2 separate regions of the Homo sapiens genome follow, and region 2 is linked to region 1. Evidence: fine-mapped expression QTL. A gene starts in region 1. The other region holds a variant in brackets. All regions are shown on one strand. Distances are from middle to middle. Region 1 holds the start of SAP30 (Sin3A associated protein 30). Region 2 holds the start of MIR548T (microRNA 548t).

Region 1 (4,397 bases):
GTTCACGCCTGTAATCCCAGCACTTTGGGAGGCCAAGGCGGGTGGATCACTTGAGCTCAGGAGTTCCACACAAGCCTGGCCAACATAGTGAAATCCCGTCTCTACTAAAAATACAAAAAATTAGGCGGGCATGGTGGCAGTAGCCTGTAATCCCAGCTACTCAGGAGGCTATGGCAGGAGAATCACTTGAACCTGGTGGTTGGAGGTTGCAGTGAGCCGAGATCGCGCCACTGCACTCCAGCCTGGGCAACAGAGTGAGACTTTGTCTTAAATAAATAAACAAACAGATAGCAGTAAGGATGACCTGAATTAGTTCATGTTGAATTTTTAACTGATGAGGGGAAAGATGATGTTGCTCACAGTTTTGCTACTTGACAGTACTTTCTCTACTTAAAAGAACAGCATATTTTAGTAATATAATGTATGCTTTCCAGTCTTTCTAACTGAATACCCAAATTATAGTCCAGATACAAAACCATTCGTTTTCACAAATGAGCCATCGACTTCAAAACTATATTTAAATTTCAGTTATACATTTTTCTGAATATTAAATCAATGTATTTATCTATAACACATTTTTCCAAAACAATCTGAAATTATGCAAGTTCACCTGAAGAGTTTCTCATGGATAACACTGAAAACTGTTTAAACGGGCAAAAAGTGTCACAAATAAACTTTTCAAAAACTTTAATTACATATACTCCTGCGAGCTGTAGACTAGCATTTGAAACAAACACGGACTGAGCTAACAGGCTTTTACATTTACTTCTAAGCCAAGCGCAAGATAAAAATATGCAGGACTTGTGGTAGGTTCTCGATACCATGTTATTCATTTACCGCTAGCCAGATCTCCCAAAAGTAGCAACGGCTGTTTCTAAAAACCTCATAGATGGTCAAACGAAAAGACGTGCAAAAAATCCTGATGGCTGCCAAGGGGATGGCAAAACCGCAGAGGCTACGTGCTCCCCACCATCGGAGTAGCTGCCCTCGGAGCTGACAGCGCAAACGCCGTTTACAACCCCGGCTCACTGCCAGGCGGCGGGTGAGCTCGGCTTCCCTCTCACTCCGCTCCGGAGGAGACGGAACACAGAAAAGAACAGGATCTTCCTTGTTCGTGAAGGTCCTCCGCTTTCTCCTAGACGACGGGATTTAGTACCGCCTGGGGCCAAACACCAGCTTGGGCAGCAAAACAAAGGCGCCTCCATTCCAGAAGAGCTGCCGGGCTGCAAGAAAACTACTCTGGGCCCTCAGTGCGCCGGTCCCCTTTGTTTCGTGTCCCGGTCGCAGAGGAGAAGGAAGAGGGAAGACTGCGCGGGAGAGACGCAGGCAGCGGGAGGTTGGGGGCCAGGGTGGGAAAGAAGAGGGGAACGACAGCCTGTGTGTGGTGTGTGTGTTGGGGTGGCGGTAGGAGTTGCAGCGACTTTGTTATTTGCTTCCAAACACAGACTCCACGAGACCGCACTGCAGCCAGTGCGGTTGTCTGGGGGACCCCGCCGACAACCCGTGCCTTTGCCCGGCTCCTGGGGCCCCACCGAGGGGCGGGAGGGCAGGGCGGTCCCGCGGTTTACTTACGCTCTTATCCAGCTCGATCTTCACCTTCTTCTGGGAGATGCTCTTCTGGATCCTCTTGCTGAAGCTGGCGTTGCCTGCCGCCCGGCCGCACCGCTCACCATCCTCCCGCAGGCAGCACAGTTGCCCGGGGCCCGGCCCGGCCGCCCCCGGGGGCCCAGCCGCTGAGACCGCCCCCGCGCCCGGCACCTCAGCCCCGGTGCCCGCGCCGGTCCCGTTCCCCGCCGAGGCGGCGGCGGCCGCGGCAGCGACCACTGCGGCCACTGCGGCGGCCGCATCCCCGCCGCGGCTCATCTCGTCAGGCGTGAAGCCGTTCATGTCTCCGAGCTCCCGAGGCCGGCGCTGACAGAAATCCCCTCTCTCCTGGCCGCTCCGCCTCTCTCCGCTCCGGCAGCGGCAATTCACTCTGCACACCAAGTTAGACAGCGGCACGGCCAAACACCAACTGTCCCGGGCCTGCTGGTCTCTGCTGGCACCGAAACAGTGGACAGTGCTGAGGGCCGGGACGCAGACTCGAGCGTCTCCTGGAGCGGGGACCCCGCTCACTGTCACATGGGGACTTCAGCAGTTGGACCGCTACGCCTCCGCCTCCCTCCGGCCCCGGGACCTGCGCAAGCGCGACGCGCCCCCTCCCGTCCCGCCCCTTTCTTTCTGCCGCGCGGCCCCATGGGAATTGTAGTTCTCTGCTGCAGAGTCAACCTGAGCTCCGCCCTGACCCCGCGCCATGAGGGACGGAGGAACTACTAATCCTAGCATGCATAGCGCGGCCACGGACCCACTTTTTTTTTTTTTTTTTTTTTTCAGTACCGGGAAAACAGGAGCGTGTGATTGGGGTTTACAGTGTTTTCTCTCGCTCTCTCTGTTTCTAGGGAATTCGGGCTGTGTTTAGCTGCTGGAATATCGTAGAATTGGTTTTCAGAGAAGTTCCTCGACTCCTGAGGCGAAACATAAAGGGATGGGAGTGGTGTGGGAAGTGATCGTGTGGGGAAAAAAAAGTTTCGAGCCCGTTTCGCATTTGTGGAGACAGAGTTTTTGGTGTGACCACTCTTTTGTGGGAAACCCAAACCAAGGAGAACTCAGGAGAATTGGCGCTCTTCGGTCCTGGAGGTTCCGCAGCTAACATCCCGGCTTGACCAACTATCGAGGCCGCAAATTAATAGGGCACCTCCTGGGAGGAAAACGCCCATCCTGACTTCTCAACTGTGACAGGTCCCCCTCACAAACGCCTTGCGGGGGGGTGGGGGGGCGTTTCTAAACACTTGCATGTTCTTACAAGGGAAATGTTTTTATTCTTGGGCGCACCAAGTTGGCCGCCTCCTGAGGTGGAGTACGGACCAGTTGACAACAGGGCTCCTTTTCACCTCCACGCCCAACCTTTTCCATTTCTCCTCAAACGGTTTTGGAGAAGGGCGGAGTCATATCATTTTAAAGGAAACTTGGAACCTCACCAATACAAACGCTGGTCGAATGTTCCCAGAAACTTCCCTGCATTAGCTCTACCGGGCGCGGGGAGCAGAAAGCGCATTTCCTGAGTCCTGAAAAGCGCGTGCGCGCCTGTGTGCTGCCGGCGTTTGGGCGCGCCTGCTTGTATGTATGTGTTCGCGGGCGCGCGCGTGTGTACGTGTGTGTGCGCGCGTACGCGTGTATGTTCCTGCGCGCTTGCGGGGACGTGCTTGTGGAGGGCGGAGAGAGGGATGGGCGTGGCTAATATGAAAGCTGCATCTTTACTAGTTAGCTACCATGCGTCATTATTTATCAAAAGATATATGCTGCTTAAACACAAATACGTTTTAAAATATATTTTAGGCAGTAGGGTTTTGGGTTTTTTTTTTGCAAGTTCTTTTGGTGAGTAAATTTAGTGATAAATGATTTTTTTTTCTTTTGAGACAGTTTGCTCTGTCGCCCAGGATGGAGTGCAGTGCAGTGGCGCGATCCTGCAACCTCCGCCTCTCGAGTTCAAGCGATTCTCCTGCCTCAGCCTCCCGAGTAGCTGGGATTACAGACGCGCGCCACCCCACCCAGATGATCTTTTTAAATGCAAAATGCCATCGACGCAGAAAATCAAAGGTATCCATTGTATCTGTGCGTTTGAGTTCTAGGATATGACAAAGAAAAACAATTTAAATATTACGTAAATTCAGTAGGAAAAAGAAAGATGATGACTGATAAGTACATTGTGTACCTCCTTAAGCTGTGCTGTCCAGTAGGCTGTCCTCTAGCCATATGTGGCTACTCAGCACTTGAAATGTGGTTGAGACGGAAAAACTGAATCGTTAATTGAATTTGAATTAAACAAAAACCAAAAACCTGATGCTCGATTCAATTGTTGGAATACTTTTAAGTGTGTTTGCAACAACTCAGATATATGAATCTGTTTTTCCAACTTAAATTTTATGAACTCTAACTTTAGCATATGAATTGAGATGTGCTGTAAGTATATATCAGCTGGACTTTTTTTTTATTTCTGGACTTACTACAAGAAATTTTCAAAAAGAATATTGAAGTGCACATTAAAAATTTTTATATATGTTTAAATGTTTTGGATGTAATGGGTTAAACAAAATATTACAATAAATTGTACCTGTTGCATTAGATAACACTGGCTTAAAGTATTACAACACAGTAGGGCGTGGTGGCTCACGCCTGTAATCCCAGCACTTTGGGAGGCCGAGGAGGGTGGATCATCTGAAGTCAGGAGTTCGAGACCAGCCTGGCCAACATGGTGAAACTCCGTCTCTATTAAAAATACAAAAATTAGGCAGGCATGGTGACACAAGCCTGGGGTTCCAGCTACTTGGGAGGCTGAGGGAGGAGAATTGCTTGAACCC
Region 2 (4,397 bases), 100 kb after region 1:
AATATGTTTAATTATCACCACTTTAAAGCATTTCATGTGGAGGAAAAATTATATCTTTTGATGAAAAAAATCCATCAAAAACCTTAGAAATCCTAAATACTCTGAAGCAATTGAGATAGGCGTCCAAGATTAGCTTCACAGCACTGACCTCTATGGTGATCTTGAATACGAAAGCCTTCATAAAAGAAAGGAGGCTGTTTCCACAGCTTCCTCATTACCTAAGGTATTGGAATGCAGAACATCAATTATCCCCTAAAATATTCCCCAAAACACTTGTCACAAAAACAAGCATTTTTTTTTCAATCTTCAAAACTCAAGATTTCATAGGAGCAATTTGACTGAATCCCTCAGGTACCTAATGTCTCATTTTCTGAAGCTGATGTCAATCTGCTATATCTTTATTCTGGAGAGCACATGCAATTACAAGGGTTATTGCCACAGTTTAAAGGGAAAAACATTTCCCCTGTACCTCCAAATTATCCCACTTTAATTTCAAAGATTTCCCCATGAAATCATCCATATCTTCACATATTGCCAATAATAATTGCGCTATACTTCTGCAGAATGGTTAAAACCAGTGGCTATGGGTCCAAGTACACTTGATTATCTTTTTATATTTTTCAGGTTCTAGAAATATGCATACATTTATATCATCTAGTTCTTTCTTCACAGGACTTTTGTAAACGACTTCTCCCACAATCAGCTGATGAGGTGGGGTGTCTCTAGTTTTACTGGATATGAAACATCCTAGCATCATGACTGCAACTTTTGATCCTCAAGAAGCATTCCTTTTCCTGCATGATTATAAAATTGGACTTTATGGCCGTGGTCTATCGGAGTTTGTTGTATATTTCTTTGAGACCAAGATTGAAGTAAGAAACAGGTGCAATGACTACTTGGAAAGAATTTAAATTACTTCTGTTGAGGAGGAGGAGGAGGAGGGAAGATTAAATCTAAAATTATTAAGTATTCCTGAAAAAAGTCAAAGCTAGTTACCAGGATATTAAATAGATTCAATACAGCATCCAACCATTTAGGAAAGGTGATGCACTTGGGGCCTGAGGATATGATACTATCACATTTACGTGGTCATAAGGACCTTTGAAATTCAGATTAGGTCTGCTTATCAGCAGAGACTATTTCAGCACTAAATCTAATAAATATTCCAATCAGTGCAAAAGACCTCCTGTGTTCCATAGCTCATGTCACTAACTGCAGCAGCTTCTGTTGGGTACACCTTGGCATGATTCCAGCTGCCTTCCCAAGCCCATTTTAGCAGTTAGGTATCTATAAAAGGAGGTGGAAGATAAAGTGGGGAGGGGTGGGAAGGAGCAAGGAAAGATGAATTATGGGCGGAACATATAATAATAACTCGGCCACTTTATTTCTATTCCTTAAATGGAAAAACAAAATTTGATGCTTTTTGGTCTTCACATTTCTAAAAGCCATTATCAGATTTCATTTTTGAAATAAATTAACAGACAAAAAATATTTTGTTTTGTTCTGTGCCTCTGTTGTCTGAGTGCCCCTATAATAAGACATGCTTATCTGACAAACATCAGAGGAGCCATGCCCCTCTGAGAAACATCTTCACTGTTACTGAGATTTGGGTTTATTATAATGGGGTACTGGGCATTTTGCCCACTAACTATATAGTAAATATTTCTGTGATTAACCTGAGCCCCATACTAAATATACAAAAATTCAGTGGCTCCTTATTATTTGTGGATTCTACGTCCACAAATGTGGATTGCAATTGGAGATGCCTGATGGGCATGCACACGAGGATGTTCTGTTTCTTGTTTCTGCTCATAGAGTAAACAAGTGTCCGGGTGCGGTGGCTCACGCCTGTAATCCCA[G/A]CACTTTGGGAGGCCAAGAAGGGCGGATCAAGAGGTCAGGAGATTGAGACCATCCTGGCTAACACGGTGAAACCCCATCTCTACTAAAAATACAAAAAAAAAAAAAAATTAGCTGGGCGTGGTGGTGGACGCCTGTAGTCCCAGCTACTCGGGAGGCTGAGGCAGGAGAATGGCGTGAACCTGGGAGGCAGAGCTTGCTGTGAGCCAAGATGGCGCCACGCCTGGGCTACAGAGCGAGACTCCATCTCAAAAAAAAAAAAAAAAAAAAAAAAAAACGAGAGAGAAAACAAGTGTCCTATTTGCAGTTTGTTTGGTGCCACAGATTTTCTCATTTTTGTGCTTTTAGTTGGTAATTTTGCTGTTTAAAACAGCCTCCCGAGAATAATGTCAGTGTGCTACCTGGTATCCTAAGCACAAAGATGCTGTGCTGTGTCCTGTGCAGAAAATCCACGTGAGACAAGCTTTGTTTGGGTGCGAGTTACAGTGCTATTGGCCCTGAGTTCAATGTAAACCCATCAACGTTATAGGTAAAATAAAGTGTCTTTAAATAGATACATGCCTAAAACAAGGTTAGGTTGGTGCAAAAGTAATTGTGGTTTTTGTCATTAAAAAATTGCAAAAACCACGATCACTTTTGCACCACCCTAACATTTTTCTTCACTTCTCTTGACGCAAATTATAGATTCAATCACCCAGCACTTACAAGCAAGCATTTCTTTATCTTAGGTTGACCTTAAGAACTTCTTTGTATTTACTAACTTCCTTTAGGACTCCTCCTCTTTTGTAGTAAGACGGCAGGATGAAATACAATGAAGAGGGTACCATATTTTAAAGATAAGGCTGAATACCACACACCTGGCATGATGAGAGGCCTATACAGAAAAAAGAGCTTCTGAAGCTTCTCTATGCCACACAAGGGATGAAGGTGGCCTCCAACAACTGTGACCTCCAACCGGTGGAGCTCATGTGTGATATGCCTTTTATGTCCTTTAGCACATTTGTTACCCACAATAACTTTACAAGCCAAGTATTATTATCCACAATTGCTAGAAGAGGAAACCAAAGCTCCCTAAATGCTCAATATCATGCTCATCACTCTTTCAGCTCTGTATGGGATTCCCAAAGTGAACCTCATGTGTATTTATGAACTTGGCACTCTCGGATACCATGCAGCACCCCTCATTTTCTGTGAGCTCTGCTTGCTGAGGTGAAGACTCTGCTGCAAAGGGGCCCCTGGTCCTGTGAAGCTGGTCCCCCTGCTGTGCCTATTCTAAGGAATGGCCATTGCTGATGACATTTGCTGGTCTGTGCCCAGGCATGGTTTCCTGGCGCTGCAGAAGCCACTGGCTGGTAATCTGCCTATGGGTGTCCACAAACCCTCAAGTACAGAAATTTGCCATCCTTCAGTTTGACAGGCATTTTAATGGAATGCTCTTTCAGTGTATCTCCCTAGCATTCAGGTACGCGTTTCAGGGGCCAGGCTGGAGGGTGATCTAAGTGACAGGCATGGTACAATGGTAAATTTTGCCCATACCCTCAACACTGATCCTCTACTTCTAGGCCATACTAAGGTGGCTTTTAAAAATTAATATATGATAATAGTACCTATTTATGGGATACATGTGATATATGGATACATGCATATAATGGGTAATGATCAAAGCAGGGTATTTAGGATATGCACCACCTCAAACATTTATCATTTCTTTGTGTTGGGAACATCCCAAATATTCTTTTCTAGCCCTTTTGAAATACACAATACATTGTTGTTAACTATGGTCACCTGCTGTCCTATTGACCATTAGAACTTATTCCTTCCAGCTAACTGTATGTTTATAGCCATTAGCCAACCCCTCTTTATCCCACATCCCAGCCCTCCACACACACACACACACACACACACACACACACACACACACACACACACACACACACACCCTTCCCAGCCTCAGGTAGCCGTCATTATACTCTCTACCTCCATGAGATCAAATTTTTTAGCTTCCACGTGAGTGAGAACATGCAATACTTGTCTTTCGGTGCCTGGCTTATTTTTAACATAATGTCCCCCATGCTCATCCATGTTGCCGAAAATGGCAGGATTTTATTATTTTTATATCTGTTCTCTTATTAATAGTATAACTTCTTACAACTTAGATTTAAGCAGAGGCCCTTCTACATATAATTGGAATTTTATATGTCCACATTTAAAAAGAGTTACCTTGGGATTGATAACATACTTCTTTTGCTCCTAAGTAAAAATTTTTATTACTATAAAATGTTTCACAAATGTATCAAAAATACTACAATTAAAACTACTGCTCTGATCAACACACTTTCGTGCTCTTTTGTCTGGTATAGTGAAAGGTCGGTCCTAGAAGACCTGGATTCATTCTTCTCAGCCACTTAATTTAATCCTGGATGATCACATACTGTTTATACTTGGGATTCCTTATCCACAAAGTGAGGGATCTCTCACAGTACCAAGGAACCCCTCTGGCCCCCTTCAGTTCTAAAATTCTTTTCTTTTCTTTTTCTTTT

The links. PIP is the estimated chance that this variant, and not a neighbour inherited with it, causes the effect.
Region 2: its variant is the best candidate, but not a certain one, in a credible set for the expression of SAP30 in whole blood (TOPMed, PIP 0.51).

Annotation. Positions count from the first base shown.
Region 1 is chr4:173,368,673-173,373,069 of GRCh38, reverse strand. SAP30 (Sin3A associated protein 30) reads right to left here and starts at 2,116. Exons shown (of 4, transcript NM_003864.4): 1 at 1,573-2,116. The coding sequence starts at 1,887. It overlaps SAP30-DT (SAP30 divergent transcript), which reads left to right and starts at 2,372. Exons shown (of 4, transcript NR_183973.1): 1 at 2,372-2,778; 2 at 3,460-3,636. RefSeq lists enhancers at 1,006-1,305, 1,009-1,572, 2,656-2,895 and silencers at 1,426-1,805, 2,086-2,255.
Region 2 is chr4:173,266,268-173,270,664 of GRCh38, reverse strand. All of the region lies in intron 2 of GALNT7 (polypeptide N-acetylgalactosaminyltransferase 7), which reads right to left. It overlaps MIR548T (microRNA 548t), which reads right to left and starts at 2,505; the gene lies at 2,432-2,505. LOC124900812 (a long non-coding RNA gene) reads left to right here. Exons shown (of 3, transcript XR_007058367.1): 2 at 1-4,397. The variant G/A (reference allele first, on the strand shown) is at 1,860.